Homo sapiens: one gene and its partner. The protein of the gene in region 1 interacts with the protein of each later gene in a pairwise test. Each region holds a gene or a part of one and is shown on either strand. Other genes may lie near its edges.

What was found. The genes of interacting proteins can lie anywhere in the genome.
Region 2: the proteins of ABHD17A (region 1) and HPGDS interact in binary tests that used the Homo sapiens proteins (3 or more experiments, as listed by UniProt).

Annotation. Positions count from the first base shown.
Region 1 is NC_000019.10:1,882,491-1,890,185, reverse strand, and holds the start of ABHD17A (alpha/beta hydrolase domain-containing protein 17A), read left to right. Parts: upstream 1-4,689; 5' UTR 4,690-4,834; intron 4,835-7,619; exon of another isoform or gene 7,620-7,695. UniProt on the Homo sapiens protein: Hydrolyzes fatty acids from S-acylated cysteine residues in proteins. Has depalmitoylating activity towards NRAS. Has depalmitoylating activity towards DLG4/PSD95. May have depalmitoylating activity towards MAP6.
Region 2 is NC_000004.12:94,339,821-94,346,786, forward strand, and holds the start of HPGDS (hematopoietic prostaglandin D synthase), read right to left. Parts: upstream 3,017-6,966; 5' UTR 2,975-3,016; intron 1-2,974. UniProt on the Homo sapiens protein: Bifunctional enzyme which catalyzes both the conversion of PGH2 to PGD2, a prostaglandin involved in smooth muscle contraction/relaxation and a potent inhibitor of platelet aggregation, and the conjugation of glutathione with a wide range of aryl halides and organic isothiocyanates.

The DNA.
Region 1 (7,695 bases):
GTGGCCCTCCTGTAGAGCCAGAGGATGCTGGAGAAGGAAGCCAGGGGGCCATATGGGGAAGGGCCCTGCAGGCAGGAGCCATAGTACCTGCAAAGGCCCTGAGGCAGCAGCACTCCTGGCCAGGCCAGCATGGCTGGGGCAGACCATGAAGGGGAAGAGGGACTAGTGGCTCCCCCCATTTTCAATGTATGATTTTTTTCATTTTTTTTTATTTATTTATTTTTATTTTTATTTTTATTTTTATTTGTTTTTGAGACAGAGTCTCGCATTTTCACCCAGGCTGGAGTGCAGTGGCGCCATCTCAGCTCACTGCAAGCTCCGCCTCCCGGGTTCACGCCATTCTCCTGCCTCAACCTCCCGAGTAGCTGGGACTCCAGGTGCCCGCCACCACGCCCGGCTAATTTTTTGTATTTTTAGTAGAAACAGGGTTTTACCGTGTTAGCCAGGATGGTCTCTATCTCCTGACCTCGTGATCCGCCCGCCTCGGGCTCCCAAAGTTCTAGGATTACAGGCGTGAGCCACGGCGCCCGGACTTATTTTTTATTATTTTATTTTTTTGAAGTCAGAGTCTTGCTCTGTCGCCCAGGCTGGAGTGCAACGCTGTGATCTCGGCTCACTGTGACCTCTGCCGCCCTGGCTCAAGCAGTTCTCTTGCCTCAGCCTCCTGAGTAGCTGGGGTTACAGGCTTGAACCACTACACCCAGCTAATTTTTGTATTTTTAGTAGAAATGGAGTTTCTCCATGTTGACCAGCCTGATCTTGAACTCCTGACCTCAAGTGATGCACTCGGCTTGGCCTCTCGAAGTGCTGGGATGACAGGTGTGAACCTCAGCACCTGGCCTCATTTTCATTTTTTATTTTATTTTATTTTATTTTTAGACCAAGTCTCACTTTGTCGCCCTGGCTGAAGTGCAGTGGCACAATCTCGACTCACTTCAACGTCTGCCTCCTGGGTTCAAGTGAGTCTCCTGCCTCAGCCTCCAGAGTAGCTGGGATTACAGGCATCTGCCACCATGCCCAGATAATTTTTGTATTTTTAGTAGAGATGGGGTTTCATCGGCCAGGCACGGTGGCTCACGCCTGTAATCCCAGCATTTTGGGAGGCCAAGGCGAGTGGATCACGAGGTCAGGAGTTCAAGACCAGCCTGGCCAAGATGGTGAAACCCCATCTCTACTAAGAATACAAAAATTAGCTGGATGTGGTGATAGGCGCCTATAATCCCAGTTACTCGGGAGGCTGAAGCAGAGAATTGCTTGAACCCGGGAGACGGAGGTTGCAGTGAGCCAAGATCACCCCCCTGCACTTCAACCTGGGCAACAGTGAGAGACAACATTTCAAAAAAGAAACAACAACGTAAAAAAGATGGGGTTTCACCACGTTGGCCAGGCCGGTCTTTAACTCCTGACTTCAAGTGATCCTCCAGCCTCAGCCTCCAAAGTGCTGAGATTACAGGCGTGAGCCACCATGCCCAGCCCTCATTTTTATTTTTTAGAGTCAGCATCTCCCTCTGTCATCCAGGCTGGAGTGCAGTGGTGCAATCACACCTCACTGCAGCCTTGAACTCCTGGCCTCAAAGAATCCTCCCACCTTGGCCTCCCAAAATGCTGGGGTTCAGACATGAGCCACAGCACCCACTATTTTCTGGGACAATTGGGACAGAGGCTCGATCACAAAGGGTCTCTGGGGAGGAGGAAGGGATGGGTGTCCTTCTGAGACATTTGAGTGTTTACAGCGTGCGTTTACCTTTCACCAGGTGGCCTTGGATTGGTGGGCCACCCTGCGGGCTTATCCTCCTCCCCTTGGATGGTGTCTCCCTGTGTCCCTGTGGGGGCTGTCGTTTACAAGTGGAGCTGGGCTTTCTGGTGCGGTCCAGCCCTGGTCCTGCCTAGCTCACAGTGGGAAGGGGCTGCAGGGAAGATGGGAGGGGGGAAGGAGGCTGGGGACAGGCCTCTTCTGGCCCTGGTGCTCAGAGAATTCACAAGGACCTAGGAAGAAGCCTGGACTTGTTTTGGCCTTTGGACCTCAGGAGAACCTCAGCGGAGGCTGGGAGCCTCGAGGGGGACAGCAGAGGCAGGGGAACGCTGGGGCAGCTCTTGACAGCCCCAGGGAGACCCAGGCAGCTGAGTCCTGAGCAGGGGCGCCAGAGGTCCAACAACACCGGAAAATCAGAAAATGAGGCAAAGCAGCCAGGTGCGGTGGTTCACGCCTGTAATCCCAGCACTTTGGGAGGCCGAGGCTGGCAGATCACTTGAGGTCAGGAGTTCGAGACCAGCCTGGCCAACATAGCGAAACCCCATCTCTACTAAAAATACAAAAATTAGCCGGGTGCAGTGGCGGGTGCCTGTTAGCTCAGCTACTCGGGAGGCTGAGGCAGAAGAATAGCTTGAATCTGAGAGGTGGAGGTTGCAGTGAGCCGAGATCGCGCCACTGCACTCCAACATGGGTGACAGAATAAGACTCTGTCTCAAAACAACAACAACCAAAAAAAAAAAGAGGAAAGAAAATGAGGCAAAGAAACCCTGGGCTATCTCTAAGTCTCTAGTCTTTTGAGCCTGATTCCTTCCCTGGCAGCTGTGTCCTGAATTTGAGGAATGAGCCCCTGGGGGCAGGATTGGCCCAGGAGCCTCAGGCTTATCTCAGAACAGTGGAGCTAAGATGAGAGTCCCTGGGACGGAGCGGGGGCTGCGGTTGCCTGCAGGCTGGAGGAGCATTTTGAGCTGGAAAAGGCACGAAAGCTGGGGGGAAGGCACATATGAGAGAAGGCCTGAAAAGCAAGGCTTCCCACCAATTCACACTCACACTTCCAGGCTGGGCCCCTTTGGTGTCTGCAGCCCTTTCTGCCCCTGTCCCTGTCACTTCCTTAGAAAGGCCTGCCCTGACCACGCTCTGAGATTCTCCAGTAACCTTCTTCCATTTTCTTTTCTTTACTTTTTTTTTTTTTGAGGCAGAGTCTTGCTCTGTCGCCCAGGCTGGAGTGCAGTGGCGTGGAGTAGCTGAGATTACAGGTGCGCGCCACAACAGCCGGCTAATTTTTGTATTTTTAGTAGAGATGGGGTTTCACCATGTTGGCCAGGGTGGCCTAATTTTTGTATTTTTAGTAGAGACAGGATTTCACCATGTTGGCCAGGCTGAACTCCTAACTTCAGGTGATCTGCCTGCCTCGTTCTCCCAAAGTGCTGAGATTACAGGCGTGAGCCACTAGGCCCTGCCATAATGCAATTTTTTTTTTTTTTGAGACGGAGTCTCGCTCTGTCGCCCAGTCTGGAGTGCAGTGGCGCGGTCTCAGCTCACTGCAAGCTCTGCCTCCTGGGTTCACGCCGTTCTCCTGCCTCAGCCTCCCGAGTAGCTGGGACTACAGGCGCCCGCCACCACGCCCGGCTATCTTTTTGTATTTTTAGTAGAGATGAGGTTTCACCGTGTTAGCCAGGATGGTCTTGATCTCCTAACCTCATGATCTGCCCGACTCGGCCTCCCAAAGTGCTGGGATTATAGGCGTGAGCCACCGCGCCCAGCCCATAATGAAATTTTTTTAAGAGACAGGATCTTGCTCTCTCGCCCAGGCTGGAATGCAGTGGAGTGATCATAGTTTTATTTATTTATTTATTTATTTATTTATTTATTTATTTATTTATCTGAGACAGTCTTCTTGCTCTGTCACTTGGGCTGGAGCACAGTGGCCCGATCTTGGCTCACTGCAACCTTCGCCTCCCGGGTTCAAGCGATTCTCCTGCCTCAGCCTCCGGAGTAGCTGGGACTACAGGCGCGTGCCACCATGCCCGGCTAATATTTGTATTTTTAGTAGAGACAGGGTTTCACCACGTTGGTCAGGCTTGGTCTCAAACTCCTGACTTCAGGTGATCTACCTGTTTCAGTCTCCCAAAGTGCTGGGATTACAGGCATGAGCCACCGTGCCCGGCCTAATGTAATATTTTAAAAACTAATGCAAAAGAATTTCTGATGAGCAATATATAAAGACTTTAAATAAGCTGGTCATGGTGGCTTGTGCCTATAGTCCTAGCTACTCAGGAGGCTGAAGTAGGAGGTTCACTTGATCCTGGGAGGTCGAGGCTGCAGTGAGCTATGATGGCACCAGCCTGGGTGACAGAGTAGACTCTATGTTAAAAAAAAGAGGCCAGGTGCGGTGGCTGATGCCTGTAATCCCAACACTTTGGGAGGCTGAGGCAGGAGGATTCTGGGGTCAGGAGTTCGAGGCCACACTGGCCAACATGGGGAAACCCCGTCTCTACTGAAAACACAAAAATTAGCTGGGCATGGTGGTGGGCGCCGGTAATCCCAGCTACTCAGGAGGCTGAGGCAGGAGAATCGCTTGATCCCAGGAGGCAGAAGTTGCAGTGAGCTGAGATCGCGCCATTGTACTCCAGCCTGGGCGACAGAGCGCGACTCCATCTCATAAAGAAAAATATTTTAAAACATTTCTAAATGTTGATGTCTGAGTTTTTTTTGGCGTCCCTGTAAATTTTGTTTTCCAGGCGAGAACTTTACTGGCCTCAACCTATTCCGGGTCCCCAAGTGAATGAAACCTAAGTTTGGCCCCGCCCACAGAGCAGCAGGCCACGCCCCTCGACATATCAGCCCCGCCCCCAGGACGCTAGTCGCGCGGTCGCTCTGTGCCTGCAGACCCCCGCCCCGCGCGCTCCTCGCGTCACTTCCGGGGCGGTGGTGAGAACGAGGCTCACTTCCGTCCGTGGGGGGAGCTGCGGCGGTGGCGGTGCAGGAGGCCGGGCAGGGGTGCGGAGGGACCGACGGACGCACGGGCGGGCGGCCGGGAGCCATGGAGCGCGGCCCTGGGGCCCGGGGGCGCGGGCCGGGGTGGTGAGTGCCGGGCAGGGGCGGGGGCGGGCGCGGCCGCGCGGGGTCCCGGGCCGGGCCTCGAGGGCCTGACAGCCCGGTTGGACGTCCCCGAGACCCCTGCAGTCCCAGGGCTTCCGCGGGTCCTGCCCGAGGAGCCCAGAGCAGGGGCGCGGACCGCGGATGAGCGTCTGTGATTGGGAAAGCCCTGTCCCCATCCATTCAGCCCTCCGGCGTGGGTTGCGCTCCCACCCTCCTGCGGACGCGGCCCTTGCCTTCGGGGAGCACCCGTCCGAGCCGCGGATTCCGCTCTTTTGCCCCGAAACTGCCCCCAGTCCGACAAACGCTTCGGCCTCTCGCCCCCCAAGGCAGCTCCCAGGGGCCCTCCCGAGCCCTGCTTCCCAACCAGCTCCCAGTCGCTGTTTCCCTTGTCAGGCTTCTTCCTGCCACCCTGACTCCTGGGCGGGCTTCCCGGCCTCCGCTCGCGTCCGTTCTCCGGGATGCAGCCCTTCTCCTATGTTGTCCATCGCTTGCTCGGGACTTCTTCGCGGCCCCGCCATTTCTCCCAGGATGAAGTGCAAACTCTCGGGGGCGCGACCTCACCCGTCCCAGGCTCTCTCTTAGGACCCTTCTGCTCACTTCTTCCTCCCAGGGTCTGCTCTAGCCAGGAGCCTGCTCTGTCACCTCGGATTTTGCTCCTGCTTGTCCCTCTGTCCCATCCCCCTGTCACCTGGCCCGTTTGTCTGCCCTCTGATATGGCCGCGCCTCCCCCCAGGCGGGTTTCCCACCCTGACTGGTTGAGTGAGGTGCAGTCACCGTCTCCCATATGTAGGTCATCTTCCAGTATTTTGGCTGCTCGGTTGCTTGCTGGTCCTCAGAACACCTCTAGCTTGCAGAGGGTTGCCCAGTTAAGTGCGTGGGAACGGAATTGGTGGGATTCAGGGTGTCAAGGGTGTGTGCCCAGTGAGTGAGGCGTCTGGGTTTGCACTCCCCAGTCCACGCCCATTAGTGACACTAGGGAGGTTCCAGGTACCTGTGGCTGGAGAGGAGAGGAGACTAGACTTTCCCTTCCCTGTCAAAGCTGGCGGACCTTGGGGATTCTTTTCCTCCTGTGCTTCCTCCTTAATTCTGTGCTGCCTACCACCTGCCCATTCCTTTAGTGAGTGGCAGGTCATGGTCCTGCTCTCATAGAGTTTCTGGTTTGGAGGTGGGGGGAGATCTGGCCAAACGTGTGAAAAATACAAGCTGTGGAAAGAGCGTGTAAGGGGTCCTGTCCCAGCTTTGAGGACTCTGAGAGCGTTGGCAGTGAGGTGCAAAGGGTGGTTGGGTTGGGCAAGGCTGTCTAGTGAGGTTGGGGAAGGGAGTTCCTGGCAGAGGAGCAGAGGCAGGAAGGGGCAATTTGGCTTGTCTTGAGGGAGCCAGGAGTGGCAGGGTGTGAGATGAGTGAGTCTGGAGAGGTCGGCCTGAGCCGGAATGCGGACCTGGCAGGCTGTGGGGAGGGCTTTGATCTCTATCCAGGGAATAATGGGAGGCCCCCAGGACACCCCAAGAGGGAAGCGGCTCCATTGCATTTGTGTCGTGAAAGATTGTTTGGCTGCTGGGGGAGAATGTCCTGGAGCAGGTGATCAGCAAGGAGGGAGGCTGTTGCTGTGGCTCTGGTGAAAGGTGATGGAGGCAGGGACCGGGCGGTGGCTGATGGGAGACAGGCAGAGCCACCGGGCTGGTGATGGACCGGCTCAGATCCAGTGGGTGGAAGGAGGTGTCAAGGATAACATCTTTGTTTCTGGCCTGGATAGTGGGGCCCTGGCCACCTCGGTGTGCCCCTTCGTCTCCGGGGTCTCCAGGGGCCTGCTGCTGTCCACTGGGCTCTCAGGACCCAGCTGCATGATGCCACCTAAACTGCAGGGCCCTCCAAGTCCCCAGCACCAGCGGGGCAGCACCGGTAGGGCCTGGACCTCTTTGAGAATATGTTGAAAAGCTGACATCAACCTCGACGCTGTGGATGTTGGGCCTGATCATTCTTTGGGGTGGGTCTGTCCTGGGCACTGCAGGGTGCTAAGCAGCCTCCACCCAGTCCCCAGTGGTGACACCCAAAACTGTGTCCAGACATTGACAGGTGTCTCCAGGAGGGAGACTCGCCTCCATCTGAGAAGCAGAACCAGCCTGACAGTCCACCTCCCGGCTGAAAAGTGCTTGCATGTGCGATTTGCCTTCCGCCTGGGAGTCTGGGGGCACTGGGATGCCATCCTTGCCCCACCCTGGCTTTCAGAGCTCTCTCCTCTCCTCCTCGTGTGCCCATGAGTCCGGCTCACAGGAACGTGGGTCTCACATCAGGTCCTGAGGGAGCAGGTGTGTTTCTGGGCCTGAGGCTGCTCCTTGGTAGTGAGGGTGTCCCCACGAGCCGTGTCTGTGGCGCCTGCAGCTGCCTGCATGTCCATCTGTGTCCACATCTGCCTTTGAGCCTCATCTTCCTGGCCCCACGGTTTTCTCATGCTGTGACCCAAAAGCCAAGCATTCCAGGGTGTTCTGCTGAAATTGAGTTGTGAGCGTGTCTCTCTCCTCGCTCCAGTCTGAAGGAGAAGCGTGGTCGGTAGATAGACGTCTCAGACCTTCGTGTTTTCTTCACGTCTGTCTGTTGGCAGGTCCTTACACTATTGTGGTTGCTTTAGCAACTTAGCTGTTGTCGACTTAATGTGTTTCATGACGTTCTGCAGCAAGGAAGAAGGTCCGAGTTTCCACTCTCAATCAGGCACCTTCGTTCCCCTCCCCCCTCACTTGACTTCCTGTGGGGTGTGTGGTGTCTGCACTTATAGATGAGAATGCTGAGGCCTCAGGAGGGCAAGGGACTCGCCCACGGTCACGGAACCCTAAGTCAGGGGTGGAGA
Region 2 (6,966 bases), on another chromosome or scaffold:
ATCATGGGGGCGGTTTCCCCCATACTGACTTCATGGTAGTAAATAAGTCTCACGAGATCTGATCATTTTATAAGGGATTTCCCCTTTAACTTGGCTCTGGTTCTGTCTTGCCTGCTGCCATGTAAGACATCCCTTCCTCTTCCGCTATGATGGTGAGGTCTCCCCAGCCATGTGGAACTGCAGTGCAGTGGCGCAATCTGGGCTCACTGAAATCTCCGCCTCCTGGGTTCAAGCGATTATCCTGCCTCAGTCTCCCAAGTAGCTAGGATTATAGGTGTGCGCCACCACATACAGCTAATTTTTGTATTTTATTTTTTAGTGGAGATGGGGTTTCACCATGTTGGCCAGGATGGTCTCGATCATCTGACCTTGTGATCCGCCTGCCTGGGCCTCCCAAAGTGCTGGGATTACAGGTGTGAGCCACTGTGCCTGGTCTAAACCTTTCTTTCTTTCTTTCTTTCTTTCTTTCTTTCTTTCTTTCTTTCTTTCTCTTTTTTTTTTTTTTTTTTTTTTTTTTTTTTTTTTTTTTTTTTTTTGAGACGGAGTCTCTCTCTGTCGCCCAGGCTGGAGTGCAGTGGCGTGATCTCCACTCACTGCAAGCTCCACCTCCCGGGTTCACGCCATTCTCCTGCCTCAGCTTCCCGAGTAGCTGGGACTACAGGCACGCGCCACCACGCCCAGCTAATTTTTTTGTATATTTAATAGAGATGGGGTTTCCCCGTGTTAGCCGGGGTGGTCTCGATCTCCTGACCTCGTGATCCGCCTGCCTCAGCCTCCCAAAGTGCTGGGTTTACAGGGGTGAGCCACCGGGCCCGGCCCGCCCCCCTCCCTTTTTTTTTTTTTTTTTTTTTTTTTGAGACGGAGTTTTACTCTTGTCGCCCAGCCTGGAGTGCAATGGCGTGATCTCGTCTCACCGCAGCCTCTGCCTCCCGGGTTCAAGCGATTCTCCTGCCGCAGCCACCAGAGTAGCTGGGATTACAGGCACCAACCACCACGCCCGGCAAATTTTTTTCTTTTTTTTTTTCTTTCTTTTTTTTTTTTTGAGACGGAGTCTTGCTCTGTCGCCCAGGCTGGAGTGCAGTGGCGCAATCTCGGCTCACTGCAGCATCCGCCTCCCGGGTTCAAGCGATTCTCCCTGCCTCAGCCTCCCCAGTAGCTGGGATTACAGACGCCCACCACCGCGCCCAGCTAATTTTTGTATTTTTAGTAGAGACGTGGTTTCGCCATGTTGGCCAGGACCTCCTAACCTCAGGTGATCCGCCAGCCTCGGCCTCCCAAAATGTTGGGATTACAGGCTGAGCCACCTCGCCCGGCCAAACTTTTTTTTCTTTATAAATTACCCAGTCTCAGGTATGTCTTAATCAGCAGCGTGAAAACTAACTAATACAATGCTGATTTATTTCATCTGATTAATTCAATCCCAGAGGCAATTTTAACATAATCATTGAAAAAATTACAAACTTTTATAATAAAACAATTTAACAATATATTATTCCGTATACTGCTGTAAAAGCACAGTAAAAAATAGTCTCAAAAATTCTAGTCTCTGTGCCAGAAAGATGACAACAATCCAATTTCAACTCTCTGACAACACAGGCTAATCAATATCCAATGCCTATACTAAACATCTTAATAAAGACTTCAGCCGAAATATTTTTAGTTCAAAAAAGAGAACTTTTGGAATAATTTTGTTAGATAGAAAACTTACAAATGAGGAATTAAGTATTGACCATTCTACAGTTCAATACAAAATGTTAGCCAACGTAAGCTCTTACTCTTAAATACGACACATCAAGAATTCAAACATATTTGGGCATTCCAGACACAGTTTTTTACATGCTTAGTAATTGCGCAATAATCTGAGTTAGAGATATAAAAACAAAGATTACTTGTGAATTTGCTATAGCTCTTCTTTGAGTTTAAGATGCAGATCTTAACTTGCCCAGTAATAAACTTATACAAAATGTAATGGCCTAGAGCATGTTTACACTCCTATTATATAGACCCTGGTGTTCTGAAATGTAAAAATTGGATTCAGACAGCAATCATGTGAGATACTATTGTTCACAGGGGAACTTCTTGCATATACTGACATTAAAACAGCTTTTTATTACCCCTAACATTTGATGGTAAAGAATGTTAATTTCCCTCATTTCACAGTGTCCCTGGGCATTTCAAGTTCAATTCTGGAAAAGTTGCCAGGTTGGAGTTAAATTATAGGACAATAGAGAAATAGAAGAATTGTTGTTGACTGAGTAAGATATTGATTTCAATCAAGCACTGGATGTTTAACTTTGAATTAGCAAGCTGAAAGCTCTATTTTTTTTTTTTTTATCAAATATCAACTAAATGTCATTTTAAGTGACTGTTTCACATTAAAGCCAAAGCAAGAGGAATAACTGAAATATCCTTTGGGAGCTGTGAGTTGAAATTCCTGGCCTGGGGTAAATCCCTTAAACCATCTCTGAAGCCAAAAGATGATAGGTTGCAATTCTTATCAAAACATGGAGATGCTTCAACAAAATGTGCCTTAAAATAATATAAAATATTACCAGTAAAAGTCTTAAACTTTAAAGCAAAGGAAAGAAATTGAACAGCCATGAGATAATATTCTCTACTCCATCAATCCAAGTTATTGAAGAATCACTTGGGAAAATTCTGGAAGTAGTAACAAACCCTGATTAAGACAGGATTTTTCCTCTAGCATTGATTATATTTTCTATGTTAAAATCCACTTGAAGAGATCTTCTTAAATCTCCTGTACCTATATTTCCTTAAAAATGACTATTTGAGTTTCACATATTCGCATATATGGAGAGGTTCTGGGTAAGACAAGGTCAGAGTGAGCACCATCATGAAAATAGCTCACAAGACAGTTAGTCACAAACAGGATATGAGAATAATAAAAACTCTGAAGTAAAGAGTAAAGCATATCTCATTTATTACCTATGTGGAGTTCAGTAATATGACTTACCTGTGTTATGTCTCTCGGGAGTCTGCAGTGTCTTGTATCCCTGGGTATGTGACTGTGCCTTGGGTTTATATGACGAGTAAGTGATAATCACGAGCCAGTGAGAGGACAGGCAACTTCCTTCTACCTAACGCTCTTCCTTCTTTTCTTAGATAAAACATGCATGCCAGGCAGTTCAAGCCTGCGAAGACTGCTGGTTATACAGGATATCTGGGTATAAATAAACCAACACATTTGTATACAAGGTAAAGTCAAAGTTATAGCTGCATATGTATGCCCACTGTTACATGTTCACTTATTTTCAGTTTTACACCATAGGCTCCTGGAGAATAAGAAAACCTGAATGTAATGAAATCATCTTTGCAGATGTGCACATGACTTGCTTCTCTATTTTAGAAACAGTCTCTCCTGTACCTGCTGTATGTTCCTTCGAGGCAGTGTCTAACAATGTGGTGTATTTAACTTGTTTGTTTTTGGTTTCTCCCAGTGGAATGTAAGCTCTGTAAAGGCAGGCACTTCACTGTCTTTTTCACTATTGTCTCCTCAGTTCTAAGAGGAGTGCCAGGCATGTCATGACCACTAATATACATCTGATGATAGAATAACCCTAATTTATAGTTCACGTTTTTGCAAGGACTGTAAATTTGCATTGTTGCTGGTTTATTTCATTTACTCTCATTTCTCAGAAAAGCCAAAGTGTTTAAAGTAAACCTGGTGTAGAAGTTTCCAATTCATCTTGTTTGTGATCCTTTTACAATTTAGTAACAAATGCCTGACATTTTAGAAATTTATTGTTTCACTTCTTAGTGCAGGAATTATTTTTATCTATAATATTAGGACAGCTCAGTGAAAAGATCCAATAAAATGCCTGCCTGGGCCTTACTGAGCCTGAGGATTATCCATGAAACATTTCAATGACCAGCTGGCTTTCAACTTCCAGAAAATTACTCCCACAGGCAACAATAGCAACATATCAATCATTTAATATTTCTTATTTCTAAAGTGCTTTTAATTTTGAAAAATATGTTTACATCCACTTAGTATAAACGTCAGAAATGAAAATAAATGTAAATACTAGTATGTAAAAAGAGAAGACGCAAGTGTAGCCCTTTACCCACCAAAAAAGGATACATGTGTGTCAAAATCAAGTGCAAATGGGATGGGAGTGGGAGCTATACAAAATTAACACAATGCATTTATTATCTTTGACAGCTTTAACTTATATTTTCAAAAAAATCTTTTTATCCTCACCTCAATGATTTTTAATCCCTATTTTTATAAATGAGGAAACTGAGACATAGGGAAATTAGGTAAATTGCCTGCGAATTTTTGTTGGGACAAGCTAGGATTAAAATCTAGGCCTTCTGATGACACATTTAATATTTTTCCTTACATAATGCTGCCTATATATAATACGAGACTGCTTCAGTTAAAAAAAAATCAAGTATACAAAAAATAACACTTTTCTCATTTTGTATTACAATTTTATCTTTTACGACCAGTTGTTTTGGCTGGAGGAAAGCAGAGTAACACATCAAGGATTGGGGAAGGAGCAGCCACTTGATCCTTGGTCACCGATCAACAGAGGCTGCTCTAGAGGCATCCATTGTCCTTGTGTGCATGGCCTCCACGCCAGGAGCTCTCTGCAGCTCCTGTAGCATTCTCATTTTGCTACCTTCTTGCCCCAGTGTGGTGGTTTCATCACAACGCTGCCTGAGATTCCACCTGCCCAGTACCCAACAGAGCCACTTCTTCTCTGTGGTCTTTCTACCTCCCTGGAGGCACAAGAGGGTCCCAGGAGAGGGTCCCAGATCTCCTCTACTCGGGAAGCACAGCTTTCCCATCCTCTTGTCTCTTCTCCCAGCCCAGGTGGGGGTGCTCTAACTCTCCTAGTCTTCTACCAGCTGTGGGCCTTTGGGCAGGTAACTTAATCTCTCTGTGCCTGAGCTCCTTCACCTTTAGATGGAGATTGATTCTACAATAAATATTTATTTGTTCCTAATCTTTGCCAGGTATTGTTCTGAACGCTAGAGATATAGCAGTAAATAAGGCTGGGCGCGGTGGCTCACTCCTGTAATCCCAGCACTTTGGGAGGCCGAGGCAGGTGGATCACAAGGTCAGGAGATGGAGACCATCCTGGTCAACATGGTGAAACTCCATCTCTACTAAAAATACAAAAATCAGCCAGGTGTGGTGGCCCACGCCTGTAATCCCAGCTACGCGGGAGTGTGAGGCAGGAGAATCGCTTGAACCCGGGAGGCAGAGATTGCAGTGAGCCGAGAGCGTGCCACTACACTCCAGCCTGGCGACAGAGCGAGACTCCATCTCAAAAATAAATAAGTAAATAAATAGAGATATAGCACTAAATAAAATCAGACAAAAACAAATCTTCATGGAGCATTCTAACAATATTAGTAATAACTCTCTCATAAGCTTTTACAGAATTAAATGAGTACACAGATATGTGCTTCAAAGTGTGCCTAATGCATAGTTAGGGATCCATGAGTGAGAGCAATTGTTAATATTATTAGCAGTTCACCTGAAGGGAAAATCGTTTCCCTTCAAGAATCTATGCTCAAGAATTCTTTCCTTTTCTGTGGTTGGGTTTGGGCACTAACAGCAGAAAGAGAAGTAGCTGTCAGGCAACTTTCATTTTTCACCCTGCTTCATCCTCTTCTGAGGAAATGAGCACGGAGCCAAGTGTCTACTGGAATAGGGAGGAGGAAAAGGGCAAGGGCAAAGTGAAAACCCCTCATGGATTGTTACCTCTCAGTTCCCTGCTCTCCAGGGCAGTGACTTCTTCATGCCACACACCCTTCAGGAGCATGTTGTGGATCCAGACTGGACTGCATGAGAAATACCCGTGAAAAAACGTGTCAAGTTGTATGATCATGTCCACACAGTCATTTAAAGGCCTATTATAATTTAATAAATATGTCTTCATTTTCTCTGGGGCTTCCTAGTTGGAAAACTTTTAATCCTGTGGTATTGAATTAGCAAATTCCTAACTGCTGTTAAAAATCCAACGTTAAATCATAGTCCATTTCTGTCCTTGTTTTCTTTATTTGCCCACCTGTGTAGTAATGTGACTATACAAGATAGTGATTAAAGAGTTTCATCCTGGAATCATGACCTCTTAGAGGAATCTCCACTCCATTATTTGCAAGCTCTGGGACTTTAGGCAGCTGCCTTAGTTTCCTTATCTGTAAAATGGTGATGATAAAAATCATTCTACTCAGAGTTGAAAGGATTCAATGAGTTTGTGCATTTAAGTCACTTAGTGCCTTGCTTAGCAAGCAGTTGCTCGATAAGTAATGGAAAAACACATACAATTTTTAAAACGTGGCCCACATATTTGTTCCTCTTTATTTATTTTTGTAAAAGAGAAGTGTTCAAACAAACCTATTTCTCCTTTTCTAGCTTGTCTGTTGATGGGGAAGGGGAGAAGTATCCAGGAGAAGCCCACAAAACTTCCTTTGCTCAGATTCTAGAGTGGTCTGGTTTACTTTTGTATATTTTATTTAATAAAACAGTTTTCCTTTTTATAGTTAGTTATTTGAAAAACTAAAAACATGTAAAAGTGACGTATTTAAACCTGGGGTTGAAAATACAGGAAATAAAGAATATGTTTTTCTGCTTCTAACCTACTTGAGTAATTGAAACATGCCTGCAAATATTTTAGTGTCTGTGTTTTCCCAGATTTCAATAATGATAATGCTATTATCTGAAGTCTGCCTCTTCAGATACTGTGAAGAATGATATGGTAATTATATCCAAGATTATGAGCAAATCTTTCACTACCTAGCCTTTTGGCTAAAAGAGGATTCCTATATGTAGGCAAATAATAGTAATAGAAATAGCTAAAATTCATTAAGTATTTCCTGTGGGCCAAGCATTGAACCAAGCACTTGTCTTGTATTACCTCATTGAATGCCTACAAAACAACATCACAAATAGTGCATGCACCCTTGAGTGTAATTGCATAACTGACTGGG